2 linked regions of the Homo sapiens genome follow. The protein of the gene in region 1 interacts with the protein of each later gene in a biochemical or structural test. Each region holds a gene or a part of one and is shown on either strand. Other genes may lie near its edges. The genes, in order: RAB26 and ADRA2B.

Evidence for each region.
Region 2: the proteins of RAB26 (region 1) and ADRA2B form a complex in vitro, tested with the Homo sapiens proteins (one study listed by IntAct).

The regions. Positions count from the first base shown.
Region 1 is NC_000016.10:2,142,362-2,153,214, forward strand, and holds the start of RAB26 (ras-related protein Rab-26), read left to right. Parts: upstream 1-6,263; 5' UTR 6,264-6,422; coding exon 6,423-6,617; intron 6,618-7,579; coding exon 7,580-7,690; intron 7,691-9,207; coding exon 9,208-9,249; intron 9,250-9,333; coding exon 9,334-9,400; intron 9,401-9,494; coding exon 9,495-9,547; intron 9,548-10,458; coding exon 10,459-10,524; intron 10,525-10,627; coding exon 10,628-10,684; intron 10,685-10,784; coding exon 10,785-10,853. UniProt on the Homo sapiens protein: The small GTPases Rab are key regulators of intracellular membrane trafficking, from the formation of transport vesicles to their fusion with membranes.
Region 2 is NC_000002.12:96,111,476-96,122,787, forward strand, and holds ADRA2B (alpha-2B adrenergic receptor), read right to left. Parts: upstream 5,097-11,312; 5' UTR 4,675-5,096; coding exon 3,322-4,674; 3' UTR 1,401-3,321; downstream 1-1,400. UniProt on the Homo sapiens protein: Alpha-2 adrenergic receptors mediate the catecholamine-induced inhibition of adenylate cyclase through the action of G proteins.

The sequences.
Region 1 (10,853 bases):
CTTGAGCCCAGGAGTTCAAGACCAGCCTGGACAATAGTGAGTCCCCCATCTCTATAAAAAAAACTAAAAAATTGCTGGGAGACTGAAGTGGGAAGATTGCTTGAACCCAAGAGTTCAAGGCTACAGTGAGTCGGAACCGCACCACTGCACTTCAGTCTGGGTAACAGAGTGAGACCCTATCTCAAAAAAAAAAAAAAAAAAAAAAGGGCAGGGTGCGGTGGCTCACGCCTGTAATCCCAGCACTTTGGGAAGCCGAGGCAGGTGAATCACGAGGTCAGAAGATCCAGACCATCCTGGCTAACACGGTGAAACCCTGTCTCAACTAAAATACAAAAACAAAAATTAGCCGGGTGTGGTGCCGGGCACCTGTAGTCCCAGCTACTCGGGAGGCTGAGGCAGGAGAATGGTGTGAACCCGGGAGGTGGAACTTGCAGTGAGCCGAGATCGCACCATTGTACTCCAGCCTGGGCGAGAGCCAGACTCCGTCTCAAAAAAAAAAAAAAAAAAAAAAAACAATTAGCCAGGCGTGGTGGTGGGCACCTGTAATCCCAGCACTTTGGGAGGCCGAGGCGGGTGGATCACCTGAGGTTAGGAGTTCAAGACCAGCCTGGCCAACATGGTGAAACCCTGTCTCTACTAAAATACAAAAATTAGCCGGGCGTGGTGGTGGACACTTGTAATCCCAGCTACTCGGAAGGCTGAGGCAGGAGAATTGCCTGAACCTGGGAGGCAGAGGTTGTAGTGAGCCGAGATCGAGATGGCGCCATTGCACTCCAGCCTGAGTGACACAGCAAGACTCCATCTCAAAAAAAAAAAGAGAGAAACGTTGCAAGGAAAGCACTTGGTGCAGTCCGGGGTAGTCAGTGATTGTTACGGTTACGCAGGGGTCTGTTTTGTTCATCGACAGGGATCCCTGCACCTGCCGTGAGGCCATGTGTGTCACTCTGAGGCTGCCGGGAGAGCCTGCAGCCAGGAGCCCTGATGCTGCCTCCTCCAATGGCTAAGCGGACACCCTCACTCAGCTCAGGCGCAGGAAGCCAGCACTGCTGAGAGCAGGCAACTGGCTCCGTAGGAGTGAGGATACTGCTCTGACAGCCACAGAGGCGCACATGACTCCCCCGTTAGCTCATCTTCTGTGTGGCAGATCACCTCTGCTGCCTTCCCGTCTGGGAGCACCTGAGTCACTGTGGTCACGTCTGCAGGCAACAGACAAAGGGTCCCCATTCGGGCAGGGATGGACACCTGTTTGTCCCGACCCACCCGGTAGGGCCTCAGGGCCACCATGGTGAGCAGGCTGAAGGGGGGTGACCTCTCAGGAGGACACCAGACTGCTGCACACCTGGACACCGGAGAGAGCTTACCTGTGATGTCACCCACGTGCTGGGGTGACTCAGTGCTCCTCTCTCGGGTGGAAGTTGCGTTCAGTGCTGCCGCAGTTCCTCCAACGTCTCCATGGCAACGTTCACACGGATTTCATAGAACATAAGGTGTTTGAGCTGGAAGGGACCTCAGAGATCGGCTCCTCCTGCCCCCTCATTTCATGGAGAGGGGAGCAGGCCCAGACAGGGAATGCCACGTGCCCAGGGGCACATAGCAAGCCGGGGACCCCGCGGAGGGCACAGACCGCTGAGCTCCAGAGGAGGGTCTTGGGAGGTGCCCTGGGGGCACAGGCCGTGGCGGCTTTGCCACTCCCTGGCTTGCTAAGAGCCCCTTGAAGTCCAACCCAGCTCTCTGCTGCTCAGCCACAGAGCTCTCGCTCGAGTGCCTGGCGGGAACAGGAGTAGGCAGGACAGGGCCCTGTCCTCAGGAGGCTCCCAGGCTGCTACAGCGGCCATGCAGCCGCTGGGGAAGGGCTGGAGAGCATCCAGGGAGCCAGAAGTGGGGCAGGAGGAGCCAGGGCAGGCTCCCTTGAGGGTGGGGCTCCAGGCAGAGTCTGGAAGCCTGAGGAGGCCTCACTCGTGCCTGCGCCCCCTCTCCTGGCACACAAGGGCCAGCCCGAGGGCCCCACTCTGGGGGCAGAGTGTAGGGAAGAGGCTGGAAAATGGGGGCCAGAAAGAGACTGTCCTGATCCATGGCTCCCAGGGGTCGTTTTGGCTGGGGGCTCACAGCACACATCCTTCCAGACACCCAGGACGGTCAGAAGGAACTGGCAGGAGTTAGAGGGCACGGTGTAAGGATGCCAGGGGGCCGGGCCGTCAGAAGGTAACAGGAGCGAAAGTCCCAGAGCAAGGCCCCAAGGAGACCCAGGGCGCTCTCTCCGCTCGAGGACAGGAACCCGTGGAGACCTTCCCCTCCCTGGAAGAGCCAGCTCTGCACCAGAAGGGTGGGGGGCTGTAGCACCCCTCCCAGGGGAACACGGACCTCACTCTCCGCCCCCAGCTCCCAGGGCCCATCTCAAACTCGGACCCTGTCTCAGGGACCTGCCCTGGCCCACAGGACTCCTCTCTTCTCCAGGTCTGAAGATGCCAAGAATCCGGACATCCCAAGGCCTCCCTGCTGAACTTTCCCACCATGCCGGCCCCCGCCTTGCCCTCGCCGGCCCCCGCCTTGCCCTCGCCGGCCCCCGCCTTGCCCTCGCTGGCTGCCTGTTCTAGTTTTTCTAGTTTTATTTGTTGTTGTTGTTGTTGTTTTTTGAGATGGAGTCTTGTTCCGTCGCCCAGGCTGGAGTGTGGTGGTGCGATCTCCGCTCACTGCAAGTTCCACCTCCCGGGTTCACGCCATTCTGCTGCCGCAGCCTCCCGAGTAGCTGGGACTACAGGCGCCCGCCACCACACCCGGCTAATTTTTTGTATTTTTAGTAGAGACAGGGTTTCACTGTGTTAGCCAGGATGGTCTTGATCTCCTGACCTCGTGGTCTGCCTGCCTCGGCCTCCCAAAGTGCTGCTGGGATTACAGGCGTGAGCCACCGCGCCCGGCCTTTTTTTTTTTTTTTTTTGTGGAGACCAAGTTTCGCTCTTGTCGCCCAGGCTGGAGTACGATGGCGCGATCTCGGCTCACCACAACCTCCGCCTCCTGGGTTCAAGCGATTCTCCTGCCTCAGCCTCCTGAGTAGCTGGGACTACAGGCGCCCGCCACCACACCTGGCTAATTTTGTATTTTTAGTAGAGACGGGGTTTCTCCATGTTGGCCAGGCTGGTCTCGAACTCCCGATCTCAGGTGATCCGCCCGCCCCGGCCTCCCAAAGTGCTGGGGTTTAATCCATCTTTAACCCACTGCAGCATCCCACTGGTCTCTGCCCATGGGCATGGACTCTGACCCTCCCCTCCCTGCCTCCAGGCCTACAGCTTCTTTCCTGAAGGTCCTCTCTGTTCCTATTATCCCTCCCCTGGGTGACTGCAACCCCCATCAATCTCATCTCCAGGCCTACAGGCTCCACCATCCATCCCCTCCTGCCAGTCCCCAATATTCCTGTAGCACAGCGTCCTCTGTTGTTCTGCTCAAAAGCCACGCACAGCTCTCTACTTCCCGCTGTACAATTTCCAAGCTCCTAGGAATAACACTCAGGTTTCCCTTCCCAGCTGACCCCATCCTACCTTACCAGCTTGATTACCTCCCGTTTCCTCCAAGGAACTGGGCCACACTTTGGCCACCTCGGCACAAAGTGCCCATCTCCTAGCACTCTCAGCCTATGCATATTGACTCCCTCCACCTGGGGACTGTCTTTCTCTCTCGTGTCGGACTCTAGCTCAATCCTCAAAGCCCAGTGCAAACCCTCCCTCCCCCAGAAGCCTTGCCCTCACTACTGATCACACTTGCCTTAAATCTTTGTTAGCAAGGACATGTCCTCCTGAAGTGAGGCCTGTGTTTCTAAGTCACATTTCTTTCTCTTTTCTTTTCTTTCTTTTTTTTTTCCCCAGAGTCTCGCTCTGTCACCCAGGCTGGAATGCAACAGCACAATCTCAGCTCACTGCAACCTCCTCCTCCTGGGGTCAAGCGATTCTCCTGCCTCAGCCTCCCGAGTAGCTGGGATTACAGGCGTATGCCACCAGGCCCAGCTAATTTTTGTATTTTTAGTAGAGACGGGGTTTCACCATGTTGGCCAGGCTGGTCTCAAACTCCTGGCCTCAAGTGATCTGCCTGCTCAGCCTCCCAAAGTGCTGGGATTACAGGCGTGAGCCACCACACCTCTTTCACCAATTTAATAACTGCTTATGGAGGCCCAGAGCTGGCTGCTGGGGACAGCAGTTGACCAAGACAAGCTGCTTCCTGTGCCCGGAGAGCTTACACTCCAGAGGGTGAAACAGATGGCAAACACAGCAACCAAGAGACATAATGATCAAAGATTCCGAGGCCTGCTGGAAGCCAAGAGAGGGGTCTGTGATGCAGGCACCCAGAGCTCCCCATTTTCAAGAGAAACCAGAGACTTGGATTTTTATGTAAACTCTCCTAATTTTAAAGGTTGCCAGCGCAAGCCCGTTTCCTCTGCTCTCTCAAGGCTCCCCTCCCCGCCTGGCCTCCCACTTTCTCCAGCGCGCCTGCCTCCTTCTCTTCCTGGGGGCCCCATCCGCACTCCTCCCCCTGCAGGATGCCCTACTTGCACCCAACTCCTCCTGCTGCCCGCGCCCTGGGGGTACCTGAGCAGCAGCTGGCAGGACGGGGTCCACTGGACTGGGAGTCCACTGCCCAGGACCCTGGGGCCAGTGCACAGCAGCTGCTGAGGCCCCCAGCTCAGACCCTGGGCCAGCCATCCTGAAAGAGGCCTTGTAGCGCGGGTGGACACCTGGAGTCCCCAGGGCTGCAGCTGCAGAAGCTAAATGCCTCTACCCAGGCCCAGTGCACACACACTGGGGGTTGGTCTGGAAGAGCTGGGGGGCCAGAGGAGTGAGACAAGGAAGGGTTCTGAGAGGGCTTCCGGGTTTGACCCCCAGCTCTGCCAGGTTCCTGGGGATTAAGTCTACAGGGATTTCTGCCATGGGACGGTTTATGTTCTCTGGAGCTGGAGATCACAGGAACAAATCCTAGCTCTGCCCTTCCTAGCCTGCTGACCTTGCACAGGCTCCTTGCCTTTCTGGGCCTCGGTTTCCCCATCTGGACACTGAGGGCAGTACCCACCTTGCAGGATAACTTTGAAGAGGTCGTGTGCCTGGCACACAACAGTGCTTGCTGTAGGGCAGGCTTCCACGGCCTCTGCCAGGCCCTCTCGAGGAATCACTCTGCTGGGCAGTGCCCCCCATCTGTGTTTTCTCAGGCCTCTGACCCGAGAGGCAGCCAATTGTTTGGACTCTGGGCACTGCCAGCTGGGAGGGCTCAGGTCTCTGAAGGGCCCAAGGTCCTGGTGACAGCTGTCAGGTCTCCGGGGACAGCTGGGTCATCTCTCCAGCTCCCAAAGAAACACCAAGAAGCCCCTGCATGCCAAGGACACCACCCCTCTGGACCACTGTGCCCCAGCTCTGACCACTGCAGTCCCATCTTCTCTGTGAGAGGGGGTGACAGAGCTCCAGTGCAGCCCAGGTTGGGGAGGTGGGTCTGCCAGGGACCAGCTTAGGATTTGGAGAATCGGCCCTGGCCACCTGAAGGTCCGAACCTGGAGGAGAAGGACAAGGGGCCAGCCACACAGCCTGGGCAGGGGCCTCTGCTTTCCACCTTTCAGACCCTGAGGGCAGAGTCCCGTGGGAGGGGACCCTCAGGGGGCCGGGGGCTGGCTGCCACAGCGACTTCCTCCTTCCCGCAGATCCCCAGGCGTGCACAGCAGGCAGAAGCTGTGGGGGAGATCGCAGCGCCCGCTGTGTCCTCCCGGTGACCAGCTGTCACCTGAGCCCAGGGCGCCTGCCCCAGCAGCCTGGTGTGTTTGCCAAGCCAGGGCTGGAGCTTCCTGGACCCGCCTACCCTGGAGGGGATGGAGCAGTGAAGGGCACCGGGCCAAGCGCTAGGCATCTGGGGCTAAGGAGACAGAAGCCCGCGGTGCCCGTCCATGCGGGCCCTCTGCCCCAGCACCCACATCTCAGGACACCCCTTCCTCCCAGGTCTGGCGGTCCAGTTTGGGGGTCACCGAGCTGGGGTGGTGTGCAGCCAGCAGAGGGGATTCAGGATCCCGGGGTGACTCCTGGCCCAGGCCTGTCACCCCACAGCTGGCTCCTGGCCCCAAGGCAGCCACGGGCAGGGGTCGTGATCGGGGGCGGGACGGGGCCCGGACCTCCTGACCGCCCCCCACCCCCCGCCGAGCGGGGGTGTATTTGCATGTCCCCGCCCCACGCACGGCATTGGCGGCGGCGGCGGGAGGCCGGGCCTGAGTGGCTGCGCGCCCGTGGAGCGGCGGGGGCGGGGCGCGAGCCGGGCGCCCGGGATGATGCCGCCGCCGCCGCCGCCGCCGCCGCCGCCGCCAGGGGAAGGGTTCGGGTCCGGGTCGGGCTCGGCGGGCGCGGGGTGCGGGACGGCCCAGGGCACGGCGGCTGCAGCGGGAGCACACTGAGCGCCCGCCCGCCATGTCCAGGAAGAAGACCCCCAAGAGCAAAGGGGCCAGCACCCCCGCTGCCTCCACGCTGCCCACCGCCAACGGGGCCCGACCGGCGCGCTCCGGGACTGCGCTTTCCGGCCCCGACGCGCCGCCCAACGGGCCCTTGCAGCCCGGCCGGCCCTCGCTTGGCGGCGGTGTCGACTTCTACGACGTCGCCTTCAAGGTGAGCCAGGCACCCGCCCCCCAGGCCAGCGCAGCAGGTGGCGCCCGGCCTGAGCCAAGGGTTGGGGGTCGGACAGGGGGTGCAGGGCCCGCGGCCCCAGGGCGCGGAGCCGACGCGGGAGGAACCCCGTGGGGCTTGCACGGTGCATCGTGCACACACAGCTGTCCATCCCAGGTCTGGGGTATCCAACAGCTGGCAGGGCCTGTCCCCCACCCCCCAGGCGGCATGGTGGCACAAGGGGTCCCGCGCCCCAGTGCCCTGGCCCCCGCCCGGGGTCTCACCATTTCCCGTATGCTGCCCTCCCTCAACCCAGCGGCTGTGGGCCTTTTTTTTTTTTTTTTTTTTTTGCTGGGGGGAAGAGGTTTGCCAGATGGATGGGGAACCCTGGGACTCCAGACCAAGGCAGAGGCTGTGTGGACTTGGCAGGGGGCTGGGAGGACCATTTTGGGTTTGGTAGCACAGGTTTCGGGGAGAAGGCCTGACTGCTGCCCACTTGCACCTCCCCCCAACCTCAGACTTGGCCCAGGTCCCTCTTCAGATCGAGATCTGATCCTAATGGGGCAAATTCCTCGAGCCTTGCTGGGGTCATGTCCCTACTGGGATGTGGAGAAGCCCCCGGCAGAGGCCTCCCCAAGTCTCTTAGGAGGTACCCAGCTGCCACCCCACCTGCTCCCCTCCCAGATGCTGTCCACCGTGTGGGGGTATGGACGTTAGGGAGGGTCCGGGATGCAGGTGGCTGCCCTCACTCCCCGCTGACTGAGACGGCCACTGTGCAGAAGGACAGAGCAGCCCCAGCCTTTCAGAGGCATACGCTGGGTGTCCAGCCCATCGGGGTCCCTGGCCCCGCTGAGCCTGCAGGCCTGGGCTGCCTCCCTCCACTCCTGCTCCTCACCTGCAGCCCCCTTCTGACCAGGCCAGCTCAGGGCAGACCAGACTCCCCCCAACCCTCCTGCTTGTCCTAGGTCATGCTGGTGGGGGACTCGGGTGTGGGGAAGACCTGTCTGCTGGTGCGATTCAAGGATGGTGCTTTCCTGGCGGGGACCTTCATCTCCACCGTAGGCATTGACTTCCGGGTGAGTGGAGGCCCTGGCCTGGCCCCACATCAGAGTCCCGCCGGTACCCGAGCAGCAAGTTCTCTCTGATCCCCATGGTACCAACAGGCTCGAGGCCTGGACCCCAGAAGCTGCCTGCCTCGACCTTCCAACACCTGGGCTGGTGGCTGCACCCGACAAGCATAGTTAGTTGCCCTATGCCAGGGGCTGGCATTACCGAGGGACCATATCCTGTGCCTTGGGGGAGGCGGACACTGTTGCCTACAGGGTGGTGGGTCAGAGGAAGTCAAGGGCCACGTCCACTTGGGGCCAGCAGTGCTGCCTCGGTACAGAGGCCTTACTGGGCCCTAGAAGCACATGCTCCCTGCAGAGCCTGAGCGAGGGTTTCCAGGGCTTGCCTAGGGGAGAGGACCCTGCTCTTGGGTGAGGAGCGCCCACCCCCACCCCCACCAGCTGGAATTCCTCGTGCTGAGGTGCCGGCTTGTCCTCAGCAAATCTTAAATTTGCATTTTTCTCACCCTTTAATTAGAGCCAGTTAGAGGGAGGATGGAGGAAGGGCTGTTCCAGGGACAGGAAAAGGGGCTCCCTCCAGTCTGGGGGTTCCAAGTCCCCTCAAGTCCTCTGGGATGGAGTGACGACTGAAGTGCCCGAGGGGGGCAGGCCAGTCCTGTCTGGTCCCCACTTCCCCACCTCCCTCTTGGCTCTCGGGCAGGTGGTAAGAGGTGAGGCCATTTGGTTCGCACTCTCGTTCAGGGTGCCAGGGAAGGCGGTGTCCTCCCCAGCCCAGCAGATGGCCCTGCCTGGTTCCCGGGAGACCCAGAAGCACTCTGACAGCAGGAGCTCAGGCTGAAGGAGGTGGCACAGGTTCCAGCTGCCCAGGGCCTCAGACTGCGGCTGAAGCCCCCCGCCCCCACCCCAACAGATGGGACTGGGGCTAGACCACTCCCTGCCTTACGTCTAATCGTTAACTGGGAGGGCCCGGCTGGGGACGCTGCCAGGCAGTTCTGGGATCTGCGGTTACTGCCTTGGGTCAGACAGGCCCAGGCCCAGCCCTGACAATCCCAGCAAGGAGTGGCTTTAATTTTTTATTCTTTTGAAGCAGGGTCTCACTCTGTCGCCCTGGCTGGAGTGCAGTGGTGATCATGGTGGACTGCAACCTCCAACTTCTGGGTTCAAGCCATCCTGAGTCTTTCAAATTAGCAAAAAGAGCTACTGGGAAGGCTGAGGCGTTGCAGCTCGTTAGTTACTGCACCCATTTGCAGATGAGGAAACCGAGGCAGTGTCAGTAAGAGGCCTGGTGGGGTCATGAGTTCAAATAAGTCAGCGTAAGAGGCTCTAAGCAGGAATAGTGCAGAGGCTGCCGGGAGAGGCCTGCACTTGCAGGTGTGGGTGAGGTCAAATTGGCTTAAGGGAAGCCTGCAGGGGCTGGGCTGGACCTGGGAGCTGGGAGGTCTCAGGGGACAGGAAGGCAGTGAAGCTAGTGGGACCAGAGGCTGGGCTGGGCCCATGCCAGAGCTGCCTGGTTCTGTCTGTTTCAGAACAAAGTTCTGGACGTGGATGGTGTGAAGGTGAAGCTGCAGGTAAGGTGACTGGCAGAGGACAAGTTGGGGGACAGGGGACACCAGGGAAGGGCTGGACAGCCTGACCAGTGCCTGTCGCTGCAGATGTGGGACACAGCTGGTCAGGAGCGGTTCCGCAGTGTTACCCATGCCTACTACCGGGATGCTCATGGTGAGCCCCTGGGTACCTGGGCTGGTTGGGGCGGGGGTCTGAGCACCTGAGGGTGCAGGTGATGGTGGATGTCCTCACTGCCCTCTGTCCCCAGCTCTGCTGCTGCTCTACGATGTCACCAACAAGGCCTCCTTTGACAACATCCAGGTCAGTGGCTTTCCTGGTGGGGTGAAAGGGCCCTGATAGGGCCTGACCCATCCCAACCTCCTTCTGGTAGATGGCATCAGGGTTCCAAAGGACCCCGCTGAGAGAGGGGAGGGGGAAATGACAGCCTTCTGGGCTGGAGGTGGCCCAAGTGGACCTGAGTGCCATTCCAGCTCCCTCAGCAGGAGGCTTTGTGTAAGGGACCTGTAAGGTGGGCTTCTGTATGTGGTACACGGGGGGTTATCACTTCTAAAGACAGGTATCCTGGCCAGGCATGGCGGCTCACCTGAGGTCAGGAGTTCGAGACCAGCCTGGCCAACATGAGGAAACCCCATCTCTACTAAAAATACAAAAATTAGCCGGGCGTTTTGGCACACACCTGTAATCCCAGCTACTCAGGAGACTGAGGTTGCAGTGAGCCAAGACTGTGCTACGGCACTCCAGCCTGGACAACAGAGCAAAACTGTCTCAAAAAAATAAAATGGGCTGGGCATGGTGGCTCACACCTGTAATCCCACCACCTTGGGAGGCTGAGGTGGGCGGATCACGAGGTCAGGAGTTGGAGACCAGCCTGATCAACATGGTGAAACCCCGTCTCTACTAAAGATACAAAAAATTAGCTGGGCGTGGTGGTGCGTAACTGTAATCCCAGTCACTTGGGAGGCTGAACCCTCCCAAGGTTCTCTGAACCCCAGGAGAATAGCTTGAACCCAGGAGATGGAGACTGCAGTGAGTCGAGATGGAGCCATTGCACTCCAGCCTGGGAAACAGGGCGAGACTCTTGTCTCAAAAAAAAAAAAAAAAAAAAAAAGATAAAGACAGGTGCCCTCTACAGTGTGACCTGGAGGGCCAAAGTTCTGGGGCATGGGGCAAGCCATGCAGGGAGCCCCAGCCTGGTCTGCTGCCTCCCACAGGCCTGGCTGACCGAGATCCACGAGTACGCCCAGCACGACGTGGCGCTCATGCTGCTGGGGAACAAGGTGGGAGGCCCGGCTGTCCTCACCTGGGCCACAGGGCAGGGCAGGTGAGGGGGCAGGGGCCAACCATGGGCCAGCTTTCACCAAGACCCTGTGCCTGGGCCAGGTGGACTCTGCCCATGAGCGTGTGGTGAAGAGGGAGGACGGGGAGAAGCTGGCCAAGGTGAGTCAGGGCAGGGGGGTGGTGAGGGGGTGCCCCTGGAGGCTGCGAGCCTAGGCTGTCCCCGCCAGGCCACCACCTGGCTGGCAGCAGCTGTTTACAGGAGTATGGACTGCCCTTCATGGAGACCAGCGCCAAGACGGGCCTCAACGTGGACTTGGCCTTCACAGCC
Region 2 (11,312 bases), on another chromosome or scaffold:
CAGTTTCAGGATCTTCAGATACCCAGCGCCACTGAATGAGAGCTGGCTGAAGAGATGGAATCACAATTCTTCATCACCTGAATTTCATAGTTTTGTGATTTCAAGACCTAGAGAGGCCACTTTAAGTCTCAATTTCGTTTTTTGTAAAATGATCATTCTCAGCAAGGTTGTGAGGATTAATGAGATAATGTATTCAAAATGGGCTTGCAAACAGTCCTGCTCTAGGAGGGGTACCTTTCCACCACCATTTCCAGAGTCAGGGCAGGGTTCTCTACTCCCAGGCTCAAGGGCCTGCCCCTTGCAGACGCTTAAGCACTGGGGACAATGTGGTCAGCAGAAAGAGCCTGGGCCTGGATGACCTCAAACAGGTCATTACAGCTTTCTCAGCCTGCATTTCTCTAGTATAAAAGGGGCTGATACTTACCTTACAGTCAGGCATAAGGATTAAATGAGGTCATCAGACAAAACCAGAAGAGCCTGGATCAGTAAAAGGGAGTCAATGAACCATCCTCATCACCCACATCAGGCCTCTGGGTGTCAGCAGTGGGTGCTTCGGCAGGTGTGGGAAGCTGAGAGCAGGGCAGGGCATGTCTTTCTTGTTAAGTCCTCAGCAAAGCCCATGTCCCCGTGTCTGTCAGTGATGGTGGGTACACTGGAGGTCTCGCTGGTTGTCCCTAGCAGAAGCATGGCCCACGCCAGTATGGAGGTGGTGAGAGTGAAGATTCTGGGCCAATGTGGAAGTAGAGGGGTGGCCTCACACTGAGGACCCTGGGGCTTCACGTGTCCTCCTTCCTCCCTCCCCTCCCTGGGCTGGCCACTGGCACTGGCCCTGCCCACGGCCTCCTGCTGCCAGCCTGCCATCTGCCCCCCTGCCCATGGGAGCAGGCCCACCTGGTTCAGGCTCCAGGGACTGCCCACTCTGTGGCCACTAAGTAGGGCAGGAAGGCTGTGGCACCAGACCACCCGGGGCTAGCTTGGGGCTGTTTTCAAACCCAGCCACAAATCCACCAATCACATCCTTTACACATGCCCTTCCCCCTACCCAAAACACCCTCCCATCTTGCTTCTTGGTGTACTCCTTCTCTTCCTCCAAGACCCAACCCAAAGGCCACCTCCTCCAGAAAACCCTCCCTTTTTTTCCCTCCCAGGGAGCCAGTCTCAGGCTCCTCCAGCCACCCTCACCCATTGGCTTGTGATGATGAGTAAGGATGCTTTGTGGACAAAGGCGGGTAGGAAGGGCAGGGGCTTGGGGGAACCAGCCAGCCACATCTCGGGGAGGAGAGGACTACTGGCCCTGGGAGGGAGCCCCAGGTCATTAGGCCAGCACCCAGAGTCTGCTGTGCCAGCAGCTGAGGAATAACTGCTCCAGGCAGCCTTTGGGCAACAAGGACACCACTTACTTATTACAAAATATCCTTTATTGATAAAATAGCTCAGAGTTTAAAAAAAAAAAAAACACCACCTGCATGTCGCAATAAGAGGTCACAGGCAAGAACACTGGGGGTCCCATGGGGCGCACACAAGACCGGCCAGCAGAGGGTCACAGTCAGTCCCTCTCCTGGCCCAGCTCCCCACCACATCCCAGGGCGATACTCTGGCCTCAACAACCCACTGAGGACCAAGCTGGGAAGCCTCCCACACCCCAGGAAGGACTCTTTTTGGTCCCCTCCATTCTCTCTACACCCAGAAAACTCCCTCGGTGCCCTTCCAAATCTAGCAGGTCCATCTGGCCCATTCCCCCGACACCTGCCAAGCTAAGATGCCTACTGGCCCAATGTTGAAGCCAGGCCCTCTCCAAGGGAAGGCCGATAAACCTCCTTTCCACACTTCCAACTGTTCTGGGTGCCAGGTTTTGGGGTGGGACTGAGAACCAGGAAGCAGGGGTCCTCAATGCACAGCCCCATCAGCATTGCGGGGAGCAGCGTGGCTGGGTCCGAGGCAGTCCACAAGCACCCACCTGGGGGGATCAGTTGTGGTTCACAAGGACTCATTTGGGGCTTGGAGACCTGGCCGGGCACTCCAGTGGGAGGCTCCCCTAGGGGCGCACCAGGCTCTGATGCCAGTACCCCACCTGGGGGCGCTGCCACCTGTCACAGGCTCTCATCTTAGACTGTTGCCGAGGTGTGGATATTTTGAGCTGTCTTGGGGAGACAATTTGCCTCCTTGATGACAAAAGACTTATCCCCCACTGGGGAGACCCAAGCCACTAAAAACCCTCTTGGTGTTGCCGGTGAAATGTCGAAACGTTGTCATGTAGCGTAATAACTCAGACCTTTGCAGCCAGAAGAACACATTCTCAAAGAGATCCTTTAACTTGAAATAGTGATTCTGTCTGCCACTCCCGGCTTCCAGTTCGGGGTAGGAATTCACACACCCCAGGGACAGAACAAAAGTCTACAGGAAGACAGGTGGTGGTAAACACAGAGGAAAGGGATTTTTATATCACCATATAATCACATTTTTGGTTCTCTAGTGTGTTCCCCCACAGAGCTCAAAGCTTTCTGCAAAGCCTTTCATCTCCCTGCAGCAAGTAGGCAGTGAGCTATTGTCGCCCCGATTTTTGCAGGGGGTGAATGCCAGTGATCGGGGATCTCCCGTCGAGGCAGAGACCAGGCCTCCAAGACCGCCCCAGCGAGGCATCCACGTGGCCACCCACCTACCGGAGGGGTGCTGGGTAAGGAAGCCGATCCATTGTTCTGGCTTTCAAAGGAACCACAGATCCGAAAACAGGCAAAGGGGGAAAGGAGGGCCCAGAGACGATGCCACCCCATAAGCCCCCATCCCAGCGCCTGCCAGGGACCGCGAGTGCCTAGCGTGGGTGATCAGTCTTCGTTTCTTCCTCCCCCTCAGCAGCAGGCCCCACTGGGAAAAGTGGAAGGCTGGCTCCGTGCTCTTTGTGGGTGGGGGGGAGATGAAAAAGAAACGAAAACACCACAAGCAAGTGACCTGCCAGGAACACAAGGTCCTCAAGAAAGGGAAGCCCAGACATTGGTCTGGAGAGCATGGGGCTCTGGGAAGAAAGTGCTCTCTCTTCTCCTGGTCTTGGCTATGTTCCAGAGGATTTGAACCACCTCCATCGGCCTGTGCTCAGGGAGAGGGTGGAGAAGGGGTCCCCCACAGCTAAGCCGGCAAGGGGAAGCTTCACTGGGACCCTTGCTAGCAGCCCCCCTGCCCACCCCTCCCAAGGGGTTCCTAAGATGAGGCCTACAGGATCTGGGCAGGGAGCAGAAAGCCCAGGGGAGGCAGCCACACACAGCAGGGCAAGAAGCAGGGTGACCCCGGCGCCACCGCACCAACCCCACAGGGGCAGCGCAGGCGGGCTCACCAGGCCGTCTGGGTCCACGGGCGGCACAGGATCCTCCGGAAGGCACGGCGGAAGTCCTGGTTGAAGATGGTGTAGATAACAGGGTTCAGTGAGCTGTTGCAGTAGCCGATCCAGAAGAAGAACTGGAAGAGGCCATGGGGCACCTTGCAGTGCTTCGGGCAGATGGCTCCCAGGCTGTAGCTGAAGAAGAAGGGGAACCAGCAGAGCACAAAAACGCCAATGACCACAGCCAGCACGAAGGTGAAGCGCTTCTCCCGGGTCAGCTGCGCCCGTCGACGCCACCACTGCCCACCTATAGCACCCACGCCCCTGCCCAGGAGCACCTGGCCACGTAGGGTGGCCAGCACCCGGGAGCCCTGTGGCTGCTGCAGCGGGGGGCTGCAAGCTGAGGCCGGAGACACTGGCACTGCCTGGGGTTCACACTCTTCCTCCTCCTCCTCCTCCTCTTCCTCCTCTTCAGCTTCATCCTCTGGAGATGCCCCACAAACACCCTCCTTCTGGCCCTGGCCTGAGTTGGGAAGGGCAGCCCAACTGGGTGGCAAGGCCCGGGTCCCAGTATCTTCAGGGGTCTCCCCCTCCTCCTTCTCCCCAGTGGACTTCGAGTGTCCGTTGACCTCTCTGGCAGAAGCCACAGAGGCCAGGGCTGGCAGTTTGGCTGAGGCCAAAGCCCCACCATGGTCGGGTCGGGGCTGCTTGGACTCACCCTGCCCAGGCCCCCCCTTGGCCCTGGGACCTCTGCGGTTGCTGCGTTTGGCGATCAGGTAGATGCGCAGGTAGACAAGGATCATGATGAGGCAAGGAGCAAAGAAAGATCCGATGCTGGAGGCCAGGATGTACCAGGCCTCCTGGTTGAGCTTGCACTGGGGGCGCCCGCGCGGCTGGGGGCCCTGGTCGCCCTTGTAGATGAGGGGCGGCAGCGAGATGACGGCGGCGATGAGCCACACAGTGAGGATGATGCACTTGATGCGGCGCGGGGTGCGCTTGGAGTTGTACTCCAGCGCGCGGCTCACGGCCCAGTAGCGGTCCAGGCTGATGGCGCACAGGTGCACGATGGACGAGGTGCAGAAGAGCACGTCGAGCGCCAGGTACACCTCGCACCACGTGCGCCGGAAGTACCAGTAGCCCAGCAGCTCGTTGGCCAGCGAGAAAGGGATGATGAGCGTGGCCACCAGGATGTCGGCGGCGGCCAGCGACACCAGGAACAGGTTCTGAGGGGCGCGCAGCGAGCGGCTGGTCAACACAGCCAGGATGACCAGAGCGTTGCCGAAGATGGTAAAGAGAATGAGGAAGGTGATGGCCGCCGCTATGGCCGCTGTGGCCTGCACGGAGTAGGGGTCCTGGTGGTCCATGACGGGGCGGGAGGTGGGCAGAGGGAGCGCTGCCCGCCCAGTGCGCACCGTGGACGACAGCGCTGCCCGGCTCGGCTAGACAAGAGCGTCGCCCCTCGGGCGGCGCCGAGGGCGCTGGAGCCCCATGGCCTGGACGAGCGGGGCCTAGGAGGTCGGGAACACCCAGGACCAGCAGCCGCCCTCCTACATCCTCCTCCACCGGTGCCCGGGGTCCCTGCCGTCCGCCCCAGAGAAGTTTCCCAAGTTGTCCCGCCGCCGTCCCCGTCCCGCCCGGGACCGGAGAAAGTCGCGCCCTCCCGCCACGCGGATGCCGTACGCTCTGGGGGCGCGGGCCGGGCTGGGCCGGTTCTTAAAGGAGGCGCGGAGGACCTTGCGCCCGCTCAGCTCGCAGGCTTTCGCCCCAGCCGCGCCTGCAGGGGAGTGGGGAGCGGGGAGAGCGGCTGGAGGAAGGCGGAGACTGGAGGCGGGCGCGGGAGCGGGCGGGAGGCGGGGCGGTGGGCGGACCGAGGTGGGCTGAAGGTGCGCTTCGCGGGAGGCGTGAGCCCGGGACTTCCCGCGCCCGGACCCCGCCCAGCGCCTCTACCTGCCTTCCTCCCGGCGGCCGCGCCTCGGGAGAGCGGAGGGGCCCGGCGGCCGGGGTCTCCGGCCCCCAGGCAGGACGCGCGCAGCTGTGGAGGGGTCGGTGGGTGCCGGGAGCCGGGACGCGGAGCTAGCGCGCGGGCCGGCACCGGGACGGGACACTTCTCCCGGGGGAACCGGGCTGGGCCCGGCGCCGGTGCGCCCTGCTCTGCCTTCCGCCGCTCGGGAGCCCGCAGGGAGGGCAGGGCGGGCGTGGGGCTGGGGCGCCGGGTCGCAATACACCACAACCCCGCCCGGCTCGGCCGTGGAGACGCCCTGCGGAGAGGTGGGGGAGCGGGGAGCGGGGAGCCGGTCCCGACCCTTTCCCAGGCGCTGCCCCTCGCGGACCAGCTCCGTCGGGCCAGCGCCGCGCGAGGAGGGCGCGTCCCGGCCTGCGAGCGCCCCCTGCTGCCGCCCGCGGGCCCAGCCCGTCAGCGGCAGCCCGGGTCCCGGAGCCAGCGCTCGCAGCCTGGGTCTTAGGACTTCGGCTTCTTGTGTCTCCGCAGCTGCCTCAGTTTCCTCCATTAAGGGCAAAGGAGGTAACAGGGAAACTGGCTTGGACTCGAATCACAGCATCAACTGCGATTCAGCCAAGGGTTTGTACGGGGCACAGGGCGAGCTGCCGCCCCTTGACTAATGCGAAGGGGAGGTCCCTTCCTTGCCGTGGGGGAGTAAAGGGTGGGGACTTTGTCACACAGCTCCGAGAAAAAGCAGGTCTCAGGGGCAGCCGTGAAGAGAGGAGCGTCCCTCCGCTTCTGTAGTGACCCCGGGGGAAGGGGTTGACCCTCCCTCCCTGCTGCGGTCCTGCCCCACATACACACTGAAGCCCTTCTGGGGGTGACAGTGGAAAGAGGGTTGGGGTAAAAAGAAACTTCAGACTAAGGCCCCCCACTCGCCTTCAAAGCGCTATGAGCAACTGTTCTCCCTCAGGGCCCCAACTCACTCTCCCTGCCACACCGCCACCAGCACCAGCCTGGGCAGCCCTGAGGGCATGTTTCCCCGGTTCTGGAGCCCCTAATGTCATAAGCCCCGCCTCGAGCCAGGCCTCTTATTCACAGCCCACGACTCTGCAAGGCATCCTCTGTATAAATAAGCACCAATCCACCTCTGACAGTGGGGCTCCCCCAGGCCCCGTCCAACCTGCTGGACCTCCTCTCCTCCCTGCTCCCTCCATGGGAGCAGAGCACGTGGCCTCTCAGTGCCCACGGACAATGTCTAGCGCCTCCCCAGGCTCAGGTGGGAGGTGCCCCGTCTCAGGTACCCAGACCAGCACCCCCAGCCACGGGGGTGTGTTGGGAGTAGGTGCCTCCTTGATCCCCCCATCCCTGTCATTCTGCCAGACTCCCCAGCTTCTGGTGAGGTGCAAGTGCCCACAGCCCATGGGGTGGATGCTGCCAGGGCTGGGTTCGGACAGGGCAATCAGCCTCCTTCCCACCCCCAACCCTAGGCTTCAGCTCAAAACCGACCACTCTGCTAGACACAGTTTCCTGGATGTGTCTTTCCCACCCTCTGGGCTGGGCAGGGCCTGGGCGCCGCCTGGGCATACATAACCAGTGATGGAGAGATGCCAGTAGCTCTTTCCCTGAGGAAGGACAGAGGGTGGCCATGAGAGCCTGGGAGCAGCTACTTAGGCAGGTGCCTGCCTATCCAGGGGCTCCCAAGGCCTTCACAGTCTGGGCCTGCTAGAGGCCCACATGGGCATCGGGAGGAACCGCCTTTCCACTGTCTCCAACCACACTTGGGCTGGGGGCCAGTGAGCAGCTCCCCAGACTCTGCAGCCAGCATCAGCCTTTGTCTTCTGACCCATCTTCCTTCAAGGGATGCTGCAGGAGCTGAGACTGGGTTGCCCGTGTGCCCTCCCCACCCTGCAAGTCCCCACTGAGGACGCTTACCTGGGCCTTCCTAGAAGTGACAACTTTGGGTCTACTGAGTGCCAAGCCTTGCTAGGCATCTTTCATTGGGCCAGCTAGGCACTAGGCCAGGTGGGGACAGCCAGGGACAGAGTCTACAGCTGGCAGACCTGGGAGATGTGTGCCCTCCGGGCAGCAGGAGCTGCCTTGGCATCCATACCGCTGCCCCAGGCTGTCACCGTCTACTGCAGCTGTCTCCTCCTGGCTCCACCCCAGGATGGACAAGTGCAGCGTGGGTGCGCCAGCTCTCCACGGCCACGCAGGCCATAACATAACTCAGCTCCTGCTCCTCTCGGCGGCTCACCATCTCCCCCCGCACACACACACCTTCAGGCCTTGCCTGCTCCAACCAGCCCCATGAGGCTGCCAGGTGCAGGAATTGGAGCCTACTAGCATAGCAAGGCTTCCTTCAGCTCTTCCCAAACTAGACCTGACCTTCCACTGTCATCCTGTTCCACAGGAACGGGCATAGTTCAGTCCCAGACCAGCAACAGCCAGCAGCAGGAGCAGCCGGAGCTTTCCCAGACACATAGCAGGGGAGTGGGCAGCAGGGCACAACCTGGATCCCAGCCCTCCATCCCTGCCCCGCCAGGCCAGTGTTGGATTCTGAATGTGCCCTGGGTCTCCACTCTCTAGACCTTCCCTGGGGCTGTTTGCTCTGATAGAGATGCCCTATCACCCTTCCTTCTGTGTTTGGTGGGCTCCTACTCACATTTCAAGGCCCACTCACCAGTCACCAGGCTCTCAGGCAGAGGGAGGACCTCCATTCTCCAGGTTCCTCGACGCCAGGCGGCACCACTTTCACACTCAGCACACTGTACTAAGATGCTCTCTGATGGGTTTGTTGCATCACCTCTGCCCATCAGAGTGGACATCCCTTCTCTGTCCCCAGTACCTGGCACAAGGTCATTGGCCGTGAGGGACAGTGGCAGCAGGCAACAGTGCACTCATACACATGAGCATTCTAAGACAGATAGCCCAAATGAGGGTGCCCTGGAGGGATGTCCTTGGGAAGAGGGGCCATGGGGAAAGGACCTAGCCATGGAAGCGATCCACCTTTTCCAAAGAAGGGCAAGACTGTTGTCCCATTGCTGGCTGTGAGACCTTAGTTGGAAGCCATGGAGACACTTCTCCAGGCCTGAGAGGTGAGATGGTGCCACCAGATCTCCTGGGCTGGGGCTCCAGCAGCTCACAACGGTGCCTTCCCTCCCCTAAGGGCCCACTGGGACAGACCCCCATCAGGCCACACACCCCACCTTTCTCCAGATGTACCCCGCCCCCCACCAGCCTTTCAGTCCCTGGGACTCTTAACCCCAGACCATCCTGTATGCCCCAACCTCCCCACTTCCCAGATCCTTGGGTCGTGTCCTCTATAATAGAAGTCAGTCGTCCTCTCTGCATAAAGATCTTGACAAAACCCCAGCTCTGGTCAAACCTAAATCATCCACCCACTGCCTGCCTTTGACCAAGCAGCTGCTCTTTCCGGAGCAAAACACTCTCTGCATCGACTGGCCTCACTCTAAATTCATGACCACAAATCTCCAAACTTCCCTAGTATGCTCACTTTCCCACTTGTTAAAATCGGCATCCCTCCCTCCCTCTCCAACCTCCCAGCCACTCCTCCGCCCCACCATGCTGTGACTCTGCCTGGTACTTAGGGGGAAACGGAAGTCCAGGCAGGAACTCACCCCCGCCGCCCACCTGCATCTGGCCTCAAACTCTCTCTGCTGATTGAAGGGCAAGTCCTCAACCTATGCCCTAGAGCCCAACCCCTCTCATCTCACCCCAGGGTTCCCCCGCTTCAGTTATCCCCCTCTTATGGTCACTGCCCCTACTCTACAAAGCCAGCCCCACCCCTTAGAACTGCCCCCCAAGCCCCATCACCTTTCTGCTGCCTCCCATAGCCACCTTCCCCCCGTGTCTGTATCCAGGCACTGTGGCTGACCCCTCACATTCTCTCCTTAACCCCCGGCAGGTCATCTTCAGACCCTCCACCGAGGGTCTTCTGTGGGTCATGCCCTACTCCACATCACCAAGCACCAGGCTTATTCTGCCCTCTTTCTCAGCAGCACTTGGCACAGCAGCCCTTCCCCTGGAACACTCACAGGGTCTGTGACCGCCTTGAAAGCCACTCCTCTGCAGCCCTTTCTTCTCCCAAACTCTTAAGTCAGAGGTTCTTGCTAAGAGTGATTCTCCTCCTCTAAAGGACGTTCGGCAATGTCTGGAATACAGGGAGGGGGCCGCTATTGGCATCTGTGGGTAGAAGCCAAAGATGCTGCCAAATGTCCTGCAAGGTTCAGGGCCGTCCCCACAATAAAGAATTACCAGGTACAAAATGCTGCAACGCTGAAATTAAGAAATGCTGCTCTAAATGCAGCAACCCAGCTCAGTCCGGGGATCCTTCCTCTTCCTCTACACGTGTGGCTCCCCTCCAGATTCGACAGCACTCCCCCAGGCACCTCCTGCCCTGCTCTCCCCGCTGAACCCCAGACTCCTTCAGCCCACCTACTCTCTGACCCCTTTGATGTCGCATGGACACCTCAGACCTGACATACCCATTTCCCCCAGCCCTGCCTTGCCCCGAGGTCCTCAGTGCTGGATTCTCAGTGAATGGTGCAGCTCCCACCCAGAGCCTGTGCCCTCACCCCATGCATGCAATCACAAGTGGGGCCACTGTGACCCCTAAACACTCCAAAGGCACCTGCTCCTGTCCATCTCTGTAGCCTCTCTCCCTTGCATAACCTCAGTGGCTTCCCGGCTGTTCTGCTTCCAGCCCATTCTCCAGAATGCATCGAGGACGTTTTAAACCTTAAGTCGGATGTGGCACCATCTTCCTTCAAACCTTCCAGTAGTTGCTGCCTGTTGCTTGTGGAATAAAACCCTCCCCATCTCTGACTTGGCTGTGGGCCCCTCCCCATGCCAGTTACACAGACCCAACACACCTTGCTTTCCCCTGCCTCAGGGCCTTTGCACTGGCTACTCAGGAATTCAGGAAATTCAGTTCCTGAATTTTCACAGGCAGCCTCCTGCCATTTAGGGCTAGGCTGAAATGTCACATCCTCAGAGGGGCCCTTCCTAACCAGCAGCCTAAGGGGGTGCTCTGCTCTGCCATCATTTGCCAATGCCAGATGTTTTCTGGTTTGCTGACTTATTGTCCAACCCTCCCCACCCTGAATAAGCTCCACGAGAAGAGGAACCCACCTTGCTCACTGCTATTCCCAGCAGAACAGAGACTGCCTACCTGGTATGTTGGATGAGTGAACAAATTGAGCCTACACAGCTGCATGGTCGGTGACTGGGGAGGTGAACAAGCCACAGACCCCTGGGAGGGGATGGCTAGCCGCCTGGGCTTGGTTTACACCCCAGGGCCCTGTACCCCTCCCACCACCCAGGCTGGGGCTCAAACGACTGAACCTTGTCCCTGTGCTCCCCTTAAGCCACCAGGCTCAGACAAGTGGCATCTTCAAGAGAACAAGATCGGAGACCAAGAGACAAATCCCAATGGAGGCTGGTGACGGGTGGCCCGAGCCCCAGGGTCCTCCCTGGGTACGAAGCACAGCACCTCCTTCCACCCAACAGCAGAGGCCGAGAGGAGTGCAAGCCTCTCTACTGTCCTTGATAAATGGGGCACTGCATGTACTGCCTCTGTCCTAGGGCTGCCTCAAGGTCTCTGCCTGGAAGCCTCCCAGCGGGGCTGTCCCCTACTCCTTGGGGCATGGCCAGAGCCCCTATCCACTCTACACTCACGCAGACCCCACTCCCCCAGCCAGGAGCAAGAGGAAGAACAGCACCTCCCTGCAGTCCTTCCCTTGTGCTAATGCCTGGGACTGGGCCACTGTTCAGTCTCAGGGTTCATGACTCATGACTGAAACCCAAGGCCGACTGAAGGTAGAGGACACAGTGTCCCCTGAGTGCATCCCCATGTCCTCAATGCGGCCCCAGCACGTGACCCTCCAGAAGGCTGGCAAACAGCAACCTCTCCCCAGAACTTGGGAACTCCAAGCTTCAGCCCTGCCCTGCTGCTTCTTGGCCAGGACCCCTGGAGCACTCGCTGAAGTCTTTGTCTTCCCTGGGAGGTGGGATAGCCACCTGGGGCCCCAGAGGGCAAGG